Linked DNA regions of Homo sapiens: region 1 is reported to be linked to region 2. The links are microRNA targets in miRTarBase. Many come from high-throughput screens and were not tested one by one. Region 2 holds a microRNA gene; the other region holds the end of a gene's coding sequence.
Evidence for each region. The annotated mature microRNA hsa-miR-4642 reads AUGGCAUCGUCCCCUGGUGGCU and lies in region 2 at 6,894-6,915, shown strand. An mRNA with a match to its seed (bases 2 to 7 or 8) in the 3' UTR can be bound and repressed. Matches are read on the target gene's strand: a 7mer-m8 pairs with bases 2 to 8, a 7mer-A1 pairs with bases 2 to 7 and ends in A, and an 8mer does both.

Region 1 (9,803 bases), not on the chromosome of region 2:
ATTCACAATGTGAGTGGGGGGTGCTTCCCAATTATTTTTTGCCTTTTGTGGTACCCCTTCCATATATTTCAGTGAAGATATTCAAAACACACAAGAGAAACTCAAGCGCACAGGAGAAGAAAAACCTCACACAGCTGGAGTGGACTGCAGCACTGGAGAGGTAGGGAAAAGCTGTGTGACCCTCCTCGGGGGTCTCCATGCTCCTGACCCTCTCTAATAGTTTGTCCCCGAGTTTCAGAAAGGATGAGGGGACTGGTCAGGCTTAGAGAGAAGCAGTGAGAAATAAACTTGGATTAAATTCCTTACAAATAGAAATGTTCCAGCTTGAAGGAAGACCTCAGGTTAATCGCGGCTAAAGCATAACGCTTTTACGAAACCCCTTTAACACAAGACAATCCCTCAGCAAGGAAAGGAGAGATGTGAGGTCTCAGGAGAGGAAAACCTGGCTAGGTAATCTTACAGCCACCACCTGACTCGCTTCACAGCAAAACTAAATGTGACGCTTACAAGGCGCCCGCCCTGCGACTCGACCCCGTTCAGATGAGTGGCAAATGTGCAGCGTCTGGTGGACCCCAAGCAGAAGCTTCCAGTGATACCTCATCATCCAGTTCAGACCGGCTTTCCTTCCTCACCATCCTAAAAGGAAGAGTTTTCTCCCTTTCTCAACACCTTGTCCAGAAACCAGTCCCCCAGGGTAGTGTGAGTATGACTTTAGTGCGGCCCTGTGCAGCTAACTTCTGGAGCGTGAAAGTCAATATAAAAACATCGGCGTCGCTCAGGGTGATAATAAACACCATCATTTACCGGGCAGCCAGTGCCAGGCAGCACAAACAAAAAGGAAACGTACTAAATGCACACAACTGGGACAGGGCTGGGGATGCAGTCCCTCCCCCCACTGATGTGGGTGGTGCAAAACTCTGGCCACCAGGAACCAGAAACCGGATTCGCTCTGAGCACTAGTTTAAACTCCTGGTCCCACATCGGTGCAGACCTAGGCATAATAATCACTGTTCCATGGATGAAGGGCTGTTTCTTTGAGACGGAGTCTTGCTCTGTCATCCAGGCTGGAGTGCAGTGGTGTGATCTCGGCTCACTGCAAGCTCCGCCTCCCGGGTTCACACCATTCTCCTGCCTCAGCCTCTCAAGGAACTGGGACTACAGGCACCCGCCACCCCACACCCGGCTAATTTTTTCGTATTTTTAGTAGAGACGGGGTTTCACCGTGTTGGCCAGGATGGTCTCGATCTCCTGATCTCGTGGTCCACCTGCCTCGGCCTCCCCAAGTGCCGGGATTACAGCCGTTGAGTCACTGCACCCTGCCACGGGTAATTATTTGGTTACAAGTATTACTGAATACTGACCTAACTCCCTCAAATCTAAAGGGTTTTTTTTTTTTTTGAGACGGAGTCTTGCTCTGTCGTACAGGCTGGAGTGCAGTGGCATTATCTTGGCTCGCTGCCACCTCTGCCTCTGGGTTCAAGTGATTCTCCTGTCTCAGCCTCTCCAAGTAGCTGGGACTACAGGCACACACCACCACGCCTGGCTAATTTTTGCATTTTTAGTAGAGACGGGGGTTTCACCATGTTGGCCAGGCTGGTCTCGAACTCTTGACCTCACGTGACTCGCCCACCTCAGCCTCCCAAAGTGCCGTGATTACAGGTGTGAGCCACCACGCCCGGCCAATCTAAAGGGTTTTTATTTTTAGCAAGTTGGAGCAATTCTTTTACTTAGTATTTATTCAATATAGTATTTGTCTTCACTTGATCATAGCCAAAAGGCTGAGAAGCAATATAGTATTGGTCTTAACAGTCATGGCACACATATTCTCTTCTACTTCTCTGGCGAGGCTGTGCCACAGAGGGGCTCATCATACAGAAAACCTCAGGCATCTGAAGACCCAAACTTCACAATGCAAGTTTACTGCTCAAGTGGCACGAAAGACCTTGTAAGCTCTGTCCCTCTAATTCATGCGAGTCCCAATACCCAAAGAGTGCTTTAAAAGTTCAAAAACATAAGAAAAGTGTGCTCAGTGTTCCTGGCTATTAAAGCTGAGTCAGGATATCTTCGTCCCAATCCACTTCTTCCTACAGCGAAGCCCAGGAGCGCCATCCACCTTCCCAGGAGATAGAACTGACTCTTCCCCAGACGCCCTGGCACTTTCCAAAGGAAGTGGACTCACATGAACTAGTGGAAGCGCGGCCATGGGCAGGGCACAGGCCACACACACACCAGGGACACGGGCACACGGCCACACGCACAGGAGCGGGGGCATGGCCAGACACCCCCCACGAACACATCGCCGCACACCCCTTAGGGACACCCCCCCGGGAACATGGACACGCATCCCACAGACAAAATGGGCCGCACCCACGGGCACACCCCGCCCCCAGGAAACCCCCCACGGAACGCACCACACGGAACGCGGGCGCCCAGGCGCGAGGGAGCGCAGCCCGCCCTCCACACAGCTTTGTTCCCAGAGCCCGGGCGCCCCTCCCCGCCCTCGGCCTCGGTCGCGGGCAGCTCTCCACAGCCCGGGCCTCAGCGAGCGGCCCCTCGGGCTTCGGGCCTCGGTCTGGCGGCGGCGCAGAAAGGCGGGCGGCGGCCCCGAGGGCCTCTGTGAGGTCGCCCTGCCCCCCAACCCCACCCCAACCCCACACGGCTGGTGGACGCCCTGGGCTGGCCCGCTCCCGCCACGTGGTCGCGCTATCCGCCCGCCTCCCGTGTGCCCCGCGCCGCACCTGGAGCCGGCGCGGCCGCCCTCGCTATCCGGGACCTGGAACATGTCGACCGCCGCCACCCTCAGCTCGCCGCGCGCCGTTCCCGCCCGCCCAGCGCAGGTACTCAAGGCCGCCCGCCAGCGCCCATTGGGCGCCAAGACGCCAATCATCCCTCCGCAGCCTATCTCAGCGCGGCCACCGCCCCTCACGCCCACCCCCGACGACTTAGGCTTTGAACGGTCGGCGCCGCGCCCGCAGCCGATTGGGGAAGGCGACGCCGCTCGCGGAGGTGGGAGCTCGCATTGGGCGGCGGGCCGGGCGGGCCCTGGGACGGCCGCGCCCTCGGGAGGAAGCCCGGTCTGCGGGAGCCCGCGAGCCGACCGCGGGGCCGCACCTGGGCCGCACCTGCCCGACCAGGGACTGCGGGCATGGGCGCGCGGCCCTGAAGAACAGGCACAAACGACAGTCCTTAGATCAACATTAGTATGTATTTATGCACAATAAAAACATTTACAAGTTGAACTGGAAATTTAAACAGAAGTTTAACAGCTCTTATTATATTAAATAACCAAAACACCTTTTATTCCCAAAATTGGTAAAGAATAAATAATATAATTTACAATATGGTACAAAAAATAACCAGGAAAGGCAGGCATTCTGCTTTATACATACACTGTATATGCATATTTATAATCTATAAAACAAATTCATATCTGAAACGAGCGGAGGCCTCGCTATGGCTTAACCGAGTAAGAGAGAGAAGGGGAGCGGGGCGCGGGAGGCAGGGCCAGGGGCTGGGCTCCCCACACCTCACCCACCCCAAGGACACGCAGCCACTGTGACATCAGGAGAGCGCTGACAGCCGCGAAGGGTGTGCTGTGGGTTTTTTTCCTTCGTTGTAAATTACTCTTTCCTTGCTTTCTTTTTTTAACTTGAGACCCAGTTTCGCTCTTCTTGCCCAGGCTGGAGTGCACTGGCGCGATCTCGACTCACTGCAACCTCCGCCGCTGAGGTTCAAGTGATTCTCCTACCTCAAGTCTCCTCAGTAGCTGGGATTATGGGCATGCGCCACCACGCCCGGCTAATTCTGTACTTTTAGTAGAGACAGGGTCTCTCCATGTTAGTCAGGGTGGTCTCATACTCCCCACCTCAGGTGATCCGCCCGCCTCGGCCTCCCAAAGTGCTGGGATTACAGGCGTGAGCCACTGCGCCCGGCCTCCTTCCTTGTTTTCTTAAGACAAAGTGCTGTATTTCCTGACAAATGCATCGGCTAGAGCTCAAGGTTTAAAGAGAAAACACAACTGTCTTCCTCCTCCCTCATTCCCGGTGTCTTATGCCCCACAACTTTCTTTGCAGAAGAAATTTTGAATTCAATGCTGTGATCTAATTAAAGATGCTATTAAACTAAAAAGGTTATCCACCAGAAATGAGGCCACGGCCTCTCATGCCCAGAACCTGGAGGTGCGGCAAAGCAAGGAGGCCAACCGCGGAAACGCCGCCAACACCCCACTCCCTGAGCTGGCACCCTACAGCTACAAGACACAGAAGGACAAAACAGCCAGGAAGCCACGAACTAGGCATCCCCCGAGGCACGCAATGCCCGCTTATCACTGCACATCCACAACAGAATTGAGGCCAGAGGACTAACTTCCCTGGACCACAGATGCTCTGTCCCAATCTCCAGAAAAGACGAATCAACAGAAAGATCCCAGGCAACGTCAGAGGGATTCAGGAAAGCTTTTTCTAAGAAACTGATCTCATCTTAATTACAGCATGCTCAAATGCACAAAGGAAGCCACAGGCTCATACTTAGACGATCACCGCTTCTGTTGGAAAGGCAGAAGATGCAGGAAGTCTCTGTTTGGATCTTTTGAAAATTCCAGCCTTTAACAGTTGCCTATGTTTGCACATAAATATTCATTTAGGCCAGAAGAAAATGTATCCATTGTTTTTCTGCAACAAATGACACCATTTTCCCTTAATGTGGCAAGCAAATGCGTATCACCTGTCTAGTTACTAGAGAAGCAGAATCCTCTAGAACTCTTGTCAGCTTTATTACAGGAGAGGAGTCAGCCCGTCCTCCTCCCTAACCCATCTCCCCACTGGATGGCAATGGCTGCAGTTGGCTGCTCCCAGGAGTCTACGCTGGAGAACCAAGTGGTAGGTGCTGTCTAAAGAGCCTACGAAAGCAGACTCTGACCTCCAAAACTTCACCCCACTGAGTTGTCAGGGGCTAACAGGTACCCTGACAGGCAGTTCACAAACCCTCCTGTCCCTGGCACAGTGCACACAGCTCAGTGCTGTTGGGACTTGGCATCTCTGGTCTAGCCTGTGGGAGTATGAGAAAGCTAGCAGTGGCCTGAACTCGGCCTGGTATCCTAACCCTCTAGAGACGCAGCAAAGCCAGATGCCCAGAGGGAGATCTCCTTGTCTTCTCTGGCTCAATGAGATGCTAATTTTGGAAGCTGGTATACGTAGCACAAAACACAAGCTAGTGTAAAGATGCTGTAGTTCAAACACTGCTGTCTCTCTCCTAATCAAGTGGCATGTTTCTTTTTTCACCCCTAAGAGGTTTGGGACTGTTTGCTTAAGATCTCATGTCAATGTCTGAAGGAGGGAAGCCAGCTCAGGCAAGAGCTCTAAGAAAAACTCGTGAGACAAAAGAAGGAAGCTCTTGCCTGGAAGTTCACTGTCCTCTCCACGTCCTCCCAGTGGTGCAGTACACGGCCTGCCTGTGGTCTACAGTGGCTGTGGTGGGCTGGCAAGACTGCAGGACGGAGGGCGTCCACATGCTTGTCCACACCAAAGGCCTTTCCCTCCTCTTTTCACCTTCTCCATTGTGGATGGGGAGAGAAGCAGTGGAGGGGCCAGGGCTGGCCTTGAGGGCTGCAGCGTGCCACACATGTGGGGGAAGAGGAATGGTGGGGAGGAGGGAGAGTAGGTCCAAGGGGGTTAGGAAAGCACAATCAATCCCGGCTGCTGCGGGGGATGAAATGAGGCAGGAAGGGAGAGATGGCGGCACAGGCATGGCCTGCCCAACACCTCTGTAGCAGCTCCAGGCCACACTGGATGTGGATGGACGGTGACTCATGTGCCTGGAACTCCTGAGGATGAGAAGGCAAAGGGGCCCTTGTTAGCTCTGTCCTGGGGAAAGACTGGATGTTGGGCCGTCTGCAGTAGGAACGCTGGCCACCCAAGAGGGCGCAAGGAGGGAGACCACCACGAAGGCATATATTTGGTGAGGTCTGACCACATCCAGATGTCTGGGCCCTCACCTGGGTGTCCCAAATGGGAAGGAGACACAGAAGTCTCAAGGCAAAGGTATGCAAGGGACTGAACACGTATGTCAGGCACGCCCACACCAATGCCCGTGAGAGACACTTTCCCTGCAAAGGCAGGTTTGTCTCAAGTGCCAAACAGTCACACATCGAGTTTGAGAACTTATCAGGAAAGTCTTCGCTGTAATCATATTAGCGCCTAAGGGTCACCCCAGGAGGGAGAAATGACACCTTAGATCGCCTGGAAGCTTGCAAAGGGACACAGGAAGGAAACCAACTACAGAGGGGACTTTGTTCTTCCTCTTCCATGTCTCCTAATTCTTAAAACACAAGAAAAACATTTTCAACCAGCTTAGCAGGGTCCCATGTAAAGTCCACACAACCTGCATAGTACAGGACTCTTCCTGCCCCCACTCCCTGTTAAGAGTACGAACAAAACCTCTAGGGAGGGGAGGCACCAGCCCAGGGCCCCACGACTCCGCAGCAGCCCTGTGATCGGTATCCATGCTCTTGCTGCCTTGGGATGTGACACCACCAGGCATGAGCCCAGGCCACACCCAACTGTCCTGCCCGTTACAGTCCACAGAGGGCACAGCTGATGCATAGCACAGGTTTGGCAGAAAGCAAGCAGCAGGGGCTGGGGCCTCCCTGCAGAGAGGGAGATCACAGCTCCTAGTGCACAGCAACTACACCAAGGCACACATACTCCCTTGTCTCAGAAGGAAATGCCACCGGAATGTCCAACACAACAATCGAGGCAGAGCACAGGCTGAAATGGGATCATTATGCAGACCCTAACATGGGCCCAGGCGTGGTGAAGAACGGCTCTAGTACCACAGTGATTTCTAACGCTGGCCCTTGCCAAGAACTCATCCTAGTCTCCTTGGACGCCGTTGCCTGCTGCTCGTGGGGAAGCAGCTCTGTGACCACGTTCCTGCCCGTTGCACAGTCTTGGGTGCGGAGATGCCTCTGTTCAGACCATCTTCTGGGGCTGCTGGGCTTATCTATTTTTCTCTAGCTCGAAGAGGGCTTCATCCGCCACCAGGACGTGTGGTCACTGGGACAGGTCACTGACAGCGGGGCCGCCTCCACCACCATCAAACAGAGCTTCTCGGCGGCCAGGCTCAGCGATGGACAGCTCTTGGGCCAGGTCATTGAACCGAGAAATGTAATCAATGCTGTTTTCGTTCATCATGCACACCAGCTGGGAATCCACAACCTGCAGGAAGAGGAGACAGGAAGAACAAGTCACCGCGACCTGCTGGCCCTTCAGTGGAGGGCGGGTCCTGAAACAGGACGAGAAGCTCCTATCGACTCCCGCTGCAGGAAGCTAAGCTAGGGATGGCAGCCCAGGGCTCTGTGCAGAATCACAATCACCTGTCGTCTGCCCGCACACTCTTTAGATAAGTGCTCGCAGAGAGCCTATGATGTGCCTGGCACATCTGATGGCTGGGGTGAGGGTGCTGGTCCCCCCGCCCGCCATGAGACCTATGGGGGAAGACACCCAACAGGTAGACAGACTGTATGCAGCAGACACAGGCACTGGGGGCAGCCTGCAGAAACAGATGCAGAGTGAGGGGACAGAGAGTGCCGGGAAAAGGAGGCCAGAGAGGGTGCTCCAAGGACTGGGACCTGAGCGGGAGGTGGGGTAAAACCCGAGGATACGTGGGGGACACGTTTCCATCATAGACATGAGGACAGGTGGGGGACACATTCCCATCATAGACATGAGGACAGGTGGGGGACACGTTCCCGTCACAGACATGAGGACAGGTGGGGGACACGTTCCTGTCATAGACATGAGGACAGGTGGGGGACACGTTCCCGTCAAGAGACATGAGGACAGGTGGGGGGCACGTTCCCATCACAGACATGAGGACAGGTGGGGGACACGTTCCCATCATAGACATGAGGACAGGTGGGGGACACGTTCCCGTCATAGACATGAGGACAGCTGGGGGCACGTTCCCATCAGAGACATGAGGAGAGCTGGGGGCACGTTCCCGTCAGAGAAATGAGGACAGGTGGAGGGCACGATCCCGTCAGAATCCCAAGGACATGTGGTGAGGGCACGTTCCCATCAGTCCTGAGGACATGTGGGGAGCACGTTCCCGTCAGAGACATGAGGACACATGGGGAGTACGTTCCTTTTTAAAGAAGCAACAGGCATGTTCCCTGAGACAGGAAGAGGCTTTGACTGAAAAGCACGACCAAGGTGGTGGCCATGACAGAGTGAGTGAGGCAGCACAGAGCTGAGGAGACGGAGGACGGGAGGGCCTCGGCACCGGGATCTTGTCCCATGAGCAAATACGTAGAATGTGCCGTTTTCAGCGCTTATTGTCTGCGTCCTGCTCTAGAGTAGAAGCCTCATGAGGACAGGGGCCATTGTTTGCACACAGCAGACCCTGCAGAAATATCCCTTAATGAACTGCATGACACTGTGAATGCAAGAAGTCTGGAAAATTCTGAATAGAGCTATGGCGTAAATGAAATTTTATGCTTTGATTATGGGAAATGTCAGACAAATTAAAATTTGTTTTCAAAAGCAGAGCAAAGAGTAATTCTCCTTCCCCTGTATGTCCATCAGCAGCTCCCACCCGTTTCATCCCAGGGCCACCCAGCTCCACCCCCGCCCCCTTCATGCTAGCCCTACCACCAGACCCTTTCATCCACAAATGCCTCAGCCCATCCTTCCAGATGACGAGGACCTGCTGAGAAACATACTCACGTTCTGAGTGGAGGGCTCTCGGGAAAATCTCATGCTAAACGCTGATCTGCTCTTTCTGAAGGTGAACACGTTTGCATTACTCGCGACGGGCAGCGTTTCACAAATACTAACTGCACCCTTTCTCTGCTACTCACTCCCAAGTGCCATCTGTTGCCCAGGATTTTATTAAAGGTGCAAATTCTGATTGGGGTGAGGCTAACACTCTGGATTTCTGACTCCAAGGGGCTCCTGTCACTGGGCTGTGGCCCGTCCTTTCAACAGCATGGCGTGAGCATGCTGCCTCAGGGCACGTACGCAGCGCCCATCTCCACAGAGCCCAGCACTTAGGAACATGCGCACAAACAGGGGAAGAGACAGAGACTGGCTTCTCGGGAAACATCAGAGTCCAAGGTGTGCCCTGAATAATGATTCTGGGGCCAAACAGGTTTGAGAAACGCCACACACTGTGAGATGGAGGTCTACGCTATTAATTGTGTCTATGTGTATATTTGGCTAAAATTTCCAGTCATATCATGGCTTGGCTTGGAATTCTCCAAAGCCTGCCCATGAGTTCATCATCTCAAGAGTCACGATTCACATTCGGATACTGGGTAGCGGAGGTGTCCGTGAGAAACAGCTGTTTTGAGCTTTTTTGGATCCAGGGTGTCCCTCAAGTATCTACCCACAAAATCCTCAAGGAACACCTGCCAATGTCTCAACATTGTGGGGACTAGATTCGGGGAATGCTGCTCCAGGACTTTCACATGGGCTAAGCCCATGCGGATGATCTCCTGGACCTGGAGTTCCCTCCCTGTCCATAGAGCCCTCACCCGACTGCCCACACACCTGCCACTCTGCACTTTACGTCACAGTGAAACGGGCCTGTCTTCACCCTGCAAGCCTGACCTGCCCACGAATGCCACACAAACCATGTGGTGGACGCCTTGAGGGCTACAACCAGATGGCCTGGCCAACAAAGAGGGACGCTGCATCTCGTCAAAAGTGGAGAGTCACAAACCACGTTTCGCCTTCCCCTCAAGAACCTGCCCCAGTGACTCCTCCTATCACTACCCTGGGCGTGGGAGAAGCATGAGGACAGCA
Region 2 (9,803 bases):
GTTTATGATCTATCATCTAATTCGTGCCCCAGTCTCATTATCTGGCAATGTCAGGGCATTCCTTCAGGATGAGAAAAATGCCATGTGACAAAAAGATGCCTAGCTCCCCTTTACCATCACGTGAGGTCCTGCACACATGGTGGAGTGGGAGAGTGGAAGGGGCACACCCAGTGGTGCCATTTGTATTCTGCCTCATCTGCCTACTAACGATGTGGTCTTAACAAGTGGTTGAATCTCTATGAGCCTTAGTTTCATTAGCTTTTTTTTTTTTTTTTTTTTTTTTGAGACTGAGTCTCACTCTGTTGCACAGGCTGGGGTGCAGTGGCACGATCCCAGCTCACTGCAGCCTCCACCTCCTGGGTTCAAGGGATTCTTGTGCCTCAGCCTCCTGAGTAGCTAGGATTACAGGCATGTGCCACTACGTCCTACTAATTTTTACATTTTTAGTAGACACGAGGTTTTGCTGTGTTAACCAGGCTAGTCTTGAACTCCTGGCCTCGTTATCCGCCCACCTCAGCCTCCCGAAGTGCTGGGATCATAGGAGGGAGCCACCGTGCCTGGCCAAATTTCATTAGCTTTTAAATGAGGTTAATATTGGCTAATTTGTAAGGTGATTATGATCTTTGGATATAATGTAGGTAAAACTTTTAAACCTAGTTTCTCACACACACAATAGGTACCTGAGAAATGATAGCTGCTGTTATAGTGAGTGAAAGCAAAGGATGTTTATACTTTTGAGGAAACATGGATGCTTGATTTTTAAAAAGCAGTCTGCATTGACTCAAAGGCTTCTTAAGCTATTTTTCCTAGGTATTGTTATCCACCCTTCCAAAAAACAACCAACCACATCTTGGATTTGACTCAAGGCATGAGGGAAAAAATTAGTCTTCTAAAGCTCTCTGGATATGGCAAGTGTTTGTAGTACTTAAACTTATTGAAATTATTATTGTAAACAGGCCCAGGATGTTTTGGTGCAGGAGATGGAAGTGGTTAAACAAGGAATGAGCCATGGAGAGCTCTCAAGTGAAGCTTATAACCAGGTGTGGGAAGAATGCTACAGTCAAGTTTTATATCTTCCTGGGCAGAGCCGCTACACACGGGCCAATCTGGCTAGTAAAAAGGACAGAATTGAATCACTTGAAAAGAGGCTCGAGGTTGGTATCCTTTTAAAATTTTAATTTTAAATGTACTTTGATTGAGATAATGAACTAAATAATGCCACTGGAGACAATGTCAGAAAAACACACCTGAGGTGCTTATTGCCTTTTTAGTTGTTGGAGAAAACTACACTTAAGTGTTGGATCTTCTTGGCCTTGTTCATTGTTTTTTTTTGTTTGTTTTGTTTTTGTTTTTTTTTTAAAGAATTGTTGGCCTTCATGACTAAAGAGTGCCCTGCAAGTTGACCAGAGGTCAATCAGAACCTTTAGATGTGGGAGCAAGGAGCCAAGAAGCCAATACTAGTCACTCAGAACAGGCAGGTCATTGCTAGCATAGCCTGTTTTCTCTGAAGAGGAATCTCAGCAGTAACGAGGAGTTTTCTTTTTATAACAAAGAGAGTACATTTACAAAACTTAAATACAATTCTGTTCATCCTTGGATTACTGTGAGTTTGAGTTAGGGAGGGCAGAGCTGGATTATCTAGTTAGTGGCTTCCATGATTTTTCATGTCTGTGAAAATGTTGAAAACATACTAGATGCAGTTTCAGGACATGTGGTTTCTTAATATAGTTTGCATATTTTGAATTCCAGAATCTGTGTAGGCATTTTGCCAATGGCATGTAAATTGTGGTTCACAGACCACCAGGCTGCCTTGTGCATTCTTTTTTTTTTTTTTTGAGACCTAGTCTCAGTCTGTTGCCAGGCTGCAGTGCAGTGGTGCAATCTTGGCTCACTCCAACCTCTACCTCCTGGTTTCAAGCGATTCTCCTGCCTCAGCCTCCCTAGTAGCTGGGACTACAGGCACGCCCCACCACGCCCAGTTAATTTTTGTATTTTTAGTAGAGACAGAGTTTCACCATGTTGGCCAGGATGGTCTTGATCTCTTGACCTCGTGATCCACCCATCTCAGCCTCCCAAAGTGCTGGGATTACAGGCGTGAGCCACCATGCCCGGCTATGCCTTGTGCATTTTTAATGGTAATCTTTAGGGGCATTTCTAAGGCCAAGGTGGGATGGGAGAGAAGGGGTACTTCAGGCAGTCATATACAGAAAATCGTCTTGGTTTCCTCTTTTATGTGATTACCAGTTTCTCTTTACAAAAAGTGCATTTGAAAATATTTTTATTTAGGGTTAAAGCCAGAAGTAGTAAAATCACTTGGGGTGGTTGGGGCTGTATGGGGCTGAGGAAATGAGCAGGAAAAAGCAGTATCTTTTAATTTGAGTTATTCTGAGTTTTAATTTAACCATTAAGATCACATATATATAGGTAGCTGATGGTTAATGCCTGTGAACCTCTTTTTTTCTCAGTGAGAAATGACTGGTTCTGAAGTAATTCTCATCTTGGGTAAAATCTTAGTTCAGTGCTGCTAATTATTTGTATTACCAACTTCCAGCAGGGTGTGCTGTTGCTCTGTGTTGTGGTTCAGTGTTAAAGCCAGGGAAAATAGAACATCAGTGGTTAAATTGTAAGTTACATTTTTTTGTTGTGTAGGCTTCATTTCTTATAAATGGTAGTTAGCAGTGTAATTGTGATCTAATATCAGCATCATCACTGATTGAAAAGCTATTTGGAAAGCTTCTTTGTATTATTTATATATAAATACTTAGGTTTCTTACTTAGTATGAAAATCTTCTCATTTGAGGTGGGTAAACTCTTTTTGCCGCAAATGGCAAGAACATTTTGTGCTTTTTTAAATGGTAGAAAATTTTTTTCTCCCTAAATCTCATTTACTTTGTTGAGGTACTAACTTTCATGACAGCAAATAAATGTGTCACACAGTGAGTGGTGCCATAAAGTACAGTAATTTTTATTTCTGTGTTGAATTGGTCTTATGAATTTTAAAGGGAAAAATACAGAAAGAGCCACTCCTGTTCTTTTGGAGATTTATTTGGGTCGTTTATGAGCAACCATTAAAAACATGTGGTTCTCTTTGTTCAGTTCAGTACCAGGAACTGAAATCTTCCGTTGAACTATTTTTGTTGAAGGATTGGTGATTTTGGAGAATATTCATAAAGCAGTCTGAAGTCATTTTTCTTTTCTTGACTCTTGGATAACTTACTTTATTGTTTACCCAGCTAGTTACTTTTAAAGAATACTTAATCAAGTCCTTTAATTTGGTAAACTGTGCTTATTTCAAATGAAAGTTCATGAAATCTTTTAAAAAAAGAAAAGCAGCTCAAAGACTTGAATAAACAAACCCCCATTTTATTTGTATCCATCACTAATTCAGAACTAGGTTTCTTTTAGCTTGTTTTAGTTTTTGAAGACACAGTTCTATTGGTTTGAAATACATAAATATTTTATTTCAATTGTGGTAATTCTTTCATTTCAGTTGATTGCTAAATTATAAACATTATTCAAAGTTTGTTGTGGGGAAGGAACTCCAGTTATATTGTATAAACTAAATGCTATACTTAAATTATCCTTTCCACTCTTAGGTTCAGGAGATAAGCCCTTCTCTGTAAGCACTGTATGCCATGGCTGCCAGTGTGTTTGATTTTTGCTGCCATGAACTTTGGAACCGTGAATCTAAATTATGGCCCTATCACTGCCTATCAAGCAAGATGAAGTCCAGCTTTGTCGTGGCTGGTGTCTCCTGAATGGATTAAAAAAAAAAAATGCCCTGAGGTTTATATTGGAGGTAGTCTTTGAGCCATTCATTACTCATGATTAATATTTGAAACTTAGCACTTAAGTGAAAATCCTTAAGATACTCATTTAAAACTAATAGAACCATCTCAGATTTTATGTAGAATGTGGTAGAGGATGTGTGTGTGCAAGGAGTTTGTTAAATAAATAGAATCAGAATGCAGTTACAGGTCAGAAATAAGTGGAAAAGACTTCTGAATTGTAACCAAGTCCATGTATTTTATTCTGCTTTGGAGGCAGAATTGAGTTTAGAACCTTGCCAGACTTTTGTGTGTAAAATAAGACAGCAAGAGCAAACACAGCAATGACAGTTAATATAAGGAAAGGAAAAGTTATGAGAGCATACCATGCTGTGTCCATTTTTACATGGTGGCAAAAAGCCCAGTGTATTTTAATAGCTTTAAAGACACTAAGATACATTGCAGGGGAGTAAAGTGATTGCTATTTATAGTGGTATCCCAAATTAATAAGAAAAACTTTATTTCTTTTCAGTGTCATGTTTTTTTAAAAGGGCGGGATGGCTATAATTCAGTGTAGGAAACATTTTCACAAATGGTTAAAAATAAAAGAGCTTTAGTACTTTTATTTATTCACACATTCAGTAATTATTACTGCCTATCTACCACGTACTGGATACTGTTCTAGGTCCTGGGGATAACAGCAAGGAACAAGGCAGACAAGTTCTCTGTGTTTGTGGGCTTCAGTTACCTGGAAAATGCTTAATGTGTGGAGAACCTCGTTTTCTGATGATGCCAGATAAATGAGTCATTACTGTATTTGGGAAGTGCAAATAGAATTTTAAGTGTTCTAATTTGTTTCTACTTTAAGTGGAAATAGGAAATCATCTGAAGACATAATTATTTTGAGTGAAATAATTTCCAGTGGGTGCAAAAGTGAAATGAGAAGTCTGAATTTAGGCATGCCGTTAAATTTAATAGTATTTGAAATAGTATCTAAACTGCTGTGTTGAGGAAGTTTGGCTGAAAAGTGGATTTTGTCACGTTAGCTGTAAAAATGGAAAGGCTTTCCTTAGAGATAGAAAATAGGTCCAGAAGTAATACTACTTCTCCCTGTAATTTACTGGCACAGTCAACTGTAGTCAAGAAATATTATATAACATAGACTTCTTAGAAGTAAAGTAACTTAAAGAACACAGATAACACACTTAAAATCCTTCTCAGTGTACTTGTAGCTCTTATGAGGACCCCTGACTTGTCTGAAGGTTATATTTCTGCAAAATTGGCTGCACAGTAGATCTCATTTTCTCAGTGATTTTCATTATAAAGTCAGATATTTTTACACAGGAAAAAATTTCCTTAATACTTTAAAGAGGGAAAACTTAGGGCAAGGATTTAGTTAGTAGACAGTTCTGGGTAGAGTGCTATATGTTGTCAGATATCAGCAGGTTTATGCTTATGTTGCCTTGTGTAGAGGTGGGGGAAGTGACTTGTGGTACAGGAGAGGAATTCACAGTACTTTGGAATACTCTCTCTTTCCCAAATTCTGTTCTTTGCTATGACCCTTATAGGCACTGACAGATTTCGTAGTTGTCTCTGGTAAGAACTTTATGAGCTGGAACAGACATCCTGATACAACCAGGTTGCTTCTGTTATGCCTCAACATGAATTGAATTTGTTTTATGCAGTTTACGTATTTCACTTCCTAATGTATGCAGATGTACAGTGCTCTTGTATTGCTTTGTTCATGTATTACTGTCCTTATAAAGGTTTTTAGTAAGGTTTTGCCTTCCTGGTTAGCATGCTTTTCAGGGATGCAATCTGATGGTTGCTAACTCATAGATGCAAACAATAATTACTTTCTTGGACCTGCGTCTCATCAGAGTAGAGAAGGTTCACTGATAAAAATGCTGGTAATTGGTATAGAGATTAAAGGAGAATCACTCATAGACTCCTGTTGTTTGCAAATGTTTTGGTGATTGAACCACATCTTGACTATTATATGGGATCATATTGCTGATTGATGGACTGGGAAGTGGAGCTCCCATTGACTGCCTGTTTATTTTGGGTATCCTTAAACCTGTTTTTCCAGTGGTATAAGGTTATATTCTGGGCCCCCAAGCAAGAGTTTCAGTGAGGGGTGCTCTTAATGTTTCTGAACCTCACTGTAACGGACTTTTACTGAAGACAGTATTGGAGACCCAAGGATAATGTGTTTATTTTGGAATTACTTAAGCTTAGTAACCTTAACAAACTTAGCTTGAAAGTAACAGTTACACTTTCATAAGTCCCATACAGCTCCCTTTTGTAATGACCCGAGGAAACACTTATGGTTCCACTGATTCATCTCCTGGGGACCATCAGTTTTCCATTGGTCTCTGGCCAGTCTTTTTTAGACAGTTTCTCTTCTATGCATTTAAAAAAATAACATTTCTAGGCGTCTTTCTATAAATAATACCTGTGCTTTGTAGAAGTTTTAAAAGAAGTAGAAAACATAAGAAAAGGAACCTACTATCCAGACATAATCACCTTAAACATTGTGGTGTATATATGCACCCCGCCCCCCCTGCCCCCACATACTCCCATATATCTTTTTTTTTTTTTTAAATGTTTGGATGAAGGTGTTTAAAACTAAACTGGGATCATATTCTACATTTTTCATTTAATAGTTGTAAATATGATTAAACACTAGTTATATTCCACCCTACTTCTAAAAAGGTGGTAAGTGGAACCTTTTTTTCTGTATAATTTTTTTGAGAGATATTTGTTTTCTTATAGTTTTATAGCTTGTTAATAAAAGAATTTAGAATTTTAAAATACAAACTGAGGAAAGTAAAAGCTTTTCTCAGGTGTCAAAATTCTTATAAGTGGGTACATGTAGGTGAGAGTCTAAATCAGGGTAAGAATGATGGGCAGAATTGCTAATTAAGGTCTTATTTCTTGTTTACATGTGTCTAGAATAATTTATTTTTCAGGGAGCTGTCTGGTGAAATTTAAGCCATTCATTTCCACAGCTTAAATTTTTTCAGGCATGTTTGCATTTCAGGGGGCTGAGCCAAGGAGGGGGACAGTCAGTTTATTAGCAGTGGTGTGACCAGTGTATTGGACTTTCAAATAGGGCACAACTGCATGGCATCGTCCCCTGGTGGCTGTGGCCTAGGGCAAGCCACAAAGCCACTCAGTGATGATGCCAGCAGTTGTGCCCTACTTAACCTCTCTGGGTCTCACATTTCCTTATCTGTAAAATTGGGTGAGTAATAGTTTTTGTTTTTTTTTTTTGAGATGGAATTTTGTTCCTGTTGCCCAGGCTGAGTGCAATGGCACGATCTTGGCTCGCTGCAACCTCTGCCTCCAGGGTTCAAGCAATTCTCTTGCCTCAGCCTCCCAAGTAGCTGAGATTACAGGTGCCTGCCACCACGCTCGGCTAATTTTTGTATTTTAGTAGAGACGGGTTTCACCATGGGTCAGGCTGGTCTTGAACTCCTGACCTCAAGTGATCCACCCACCTTGGCCTCCCAAAGTGCTGGGATTACAGGTGTGAGCCACCGTGCCCAGCCGAGTAATTGTTTTTATTTGATGGAAGCATGAGTTTGAGATAATATAAGATTAAATGAGATACTGTATGATTAGCAAATAGCAGGTGTTAGTAAATGGGAATTCTCCTCCCATGTGTCTTCAAGTCTATATCACCCTTAGAGTTACCTAAATTGGATTATACTTGGTTTGATACTATGAGGTATTAGGAACTAACCTCACTTTAAACAATCGGGTGGCTAAGTTTTTATATTCTGTAAATTTTGAGGAATGTCTGAAGTTTTAGACATGGGCTGATTTTAGGAGAGAGATTGTTGTACTGAGTGAAGCTTAAAACTCAGATTTTGGTTAGCGTAAATAGATTTTACATCGTGGATTTTAATCTAACATTTCATGTATACATTTTGGTGTGTTGAAATAGTTGACATATTTGTAAATTTTAATGTCTCATTATATTTCACTACATTGATGTTTCATGATTTGTGGTGTATGGTCTTGAGAAAGTAGCCTTTAGAGTAGATACAATATTGAATTTGACTTTTAAAAAATCTTATAAGAATTTTCAAATGTACCCCAGAGTATACTGGTATAATAAATCCTCATGTATTCTCACCCAGCTATGACAGTCATCAATCATAGCCACTCTTGTTTCCCCTGTTATCCCCCCTTCCACTATTATTTTGAAGCAAATTTTAGATACCGTATTATGAAATAGAATTACGGTGCGTGAAATTTGTCAGCTTGGCCTTCCTACCGATTTGTATGTGGATATATTCTTAATTTCCTGCTTTGAATTGAAGTTTACCCTTTCATATTTGATCAAGTCAGCTTTAATTGTATCAAGTGTCGGTCTACTTTAAATTCCTATCAGTGATAGTGAACTTCATTTTATTTAAGACTATTAGAAATTTTTTGTCAGTACATATTTAAAGCACAGTGTGGTGGCTTCTAAAGTAAGGTGTCCATCAGGGCAGTTGCTAGTGCTTGTTTTAAAAAATTAATTTAGAAATCTGACTGGTTAAATCTGAGTCTGATTTTCCCTTTTTCTTTGAATTTTAGGAAATAAAGTTTTATACTCTCTTGTACCTCAGTGTTGTTTCTGTGTGTGGATGGGTGTTGGGAGGAGCTGGGCTGATTTAAGCTAGTCCTGTCCCTGTATGCATGTACATTTCATGCTTGAGGTTTATTGGCTTGAAAAAGACCAGAAACTGTAGGTTAGGATTTTTCCTCTTAAAGCATATTGAGCAGTCATAGGTTGAGCATTTTACAAAGCATGCAGATACCCTCCTTTGTGTTTTAATAATCAAATGACAGGCGTAAGATAACTAAGTTCAACTTGAATATTAAAAGCTGTAGTCCATTTCTTCTTTATATGTTTAATGACTATATAGTTATTTGGCTAAATTAATTTTTTTCTGTGCTTAAGTTAATTTTTGTACAATTTATGTCCATATTTGCTTGGAACCTTAGCGCAATATTTGAGCCAGAAGACTTGCAAAGCTTGAGCTAAATGAAATAAAATTGTTGGCATTAAAGGAAAGCTAACAACTTTGAAGTTTTAAAATCTCTGATGGTTTGAGTATAAGAAATGACTCCATTGGATGAGGTGAGGTAATTCCAAGATACAGGGTACTGATAATACTAAACGTACCTTGATGACTAATTAAGCAGTTTCTGAGTATAGGTATTATGCTGTAAAACCAAACTGGAAATGGACTATCCATGGAGCATAGTGTATAGCTGAGTTATCAATGAAAATGTTAATTCGTATGATTAATTTTTAAAAAGCATTATATGTATTAATTTGAAATTCTTTGCTGTTAAGGTTTTGGAATGTGTGTTTGAATCCAAATGTGATTGGAGTATGTAATAATGGGTATTCTTAGAACATGCTGAATTGTTTTACTTTTTTGGAGACAGGGTCTTTCTCTGTTGACCAGGCTGGAGTGCAGTGGCGCGATCATGGCTCACTGCTGCCTCCAACCTCTCAGGCTTGGGTGATTCCCGCCTCAGTCTCCCAAGTAGCTGGAACCACAGGCATGTGCCACTATGTCTGGCTAATTTTTGTATTTTTTGAGAGACAGTGTTTCACTCTATTGTCCAGGTTGGTCTCGAACTCCTGGGCTCAAGCGATCCACCTGCCTTGGCCTCCCAAAGTGCTAGGATTACAGGTGTGAACCACTGTTGCCTGGCTGAACATGTTAAATTATAGAAGAAGGAACTTGAATGTAACTTGATGGATTTAGTTGTTCATATCTTATTGGAAATGAGGACTTTTTGGTAGATATAGTTGAGAAAACAACTGATACCTAGCTTGTGTAATGACTCTGGCTGAAACAGAGTTTGACATCCTAATTGCCTGTTAGAATCATTTGGGAGTTTTTAAGGACACAAAGATCTGAGACCATTTAAATCAGAGTCTCTGGAGTTAGGGCACTGGTGCTGGTAGATTTTAAAAACTCCACTGGCAATTCTGAAGTTTAGCTGTGGTTGAAAACCACTGGC

Region 1: the mRNA of CRAMP1 is a reported target of hsa-miR-4642. Seed matches in the 3' UTR shown: 8mer at 5,028-5,035.

What each region holds. Positions count from the first base shown.
Region 1 is chr16:1,671,292-1,681,094 of GRCh38, reverse strand. CRAMP1 (cramped chromatin regulator 1) reads right to left here. Exons shown (of 21, transcript NM_020825.4): 21 at 3,187-7,214. The coding sequence ends at 7,050. It overlaps JPT2 (Jupiter microtubule associated homolog 2), which reads right to left and starts at 2,816. Exons shown (of 5, transcript NM_144570.3): 1 at 2,739-2,816. The coding sequence starts at 2,782. RefSeq lists silencers at 2,400-2,759, 2,790-3,189 and an enhancer at 2,324-2,959.
Region 2 is chr6:44,428,757-44,438,559 of GRCh38, forward strand. MIR4642 (microRNA 4642) reads left to right here and starts at 6,885; the gene lies at 6,885-6,966. CDC5L (cell division cycle 5 like) reads left to right here. Exons shown (of 16, transcript NM_001253.4): 14 at 957-1,154.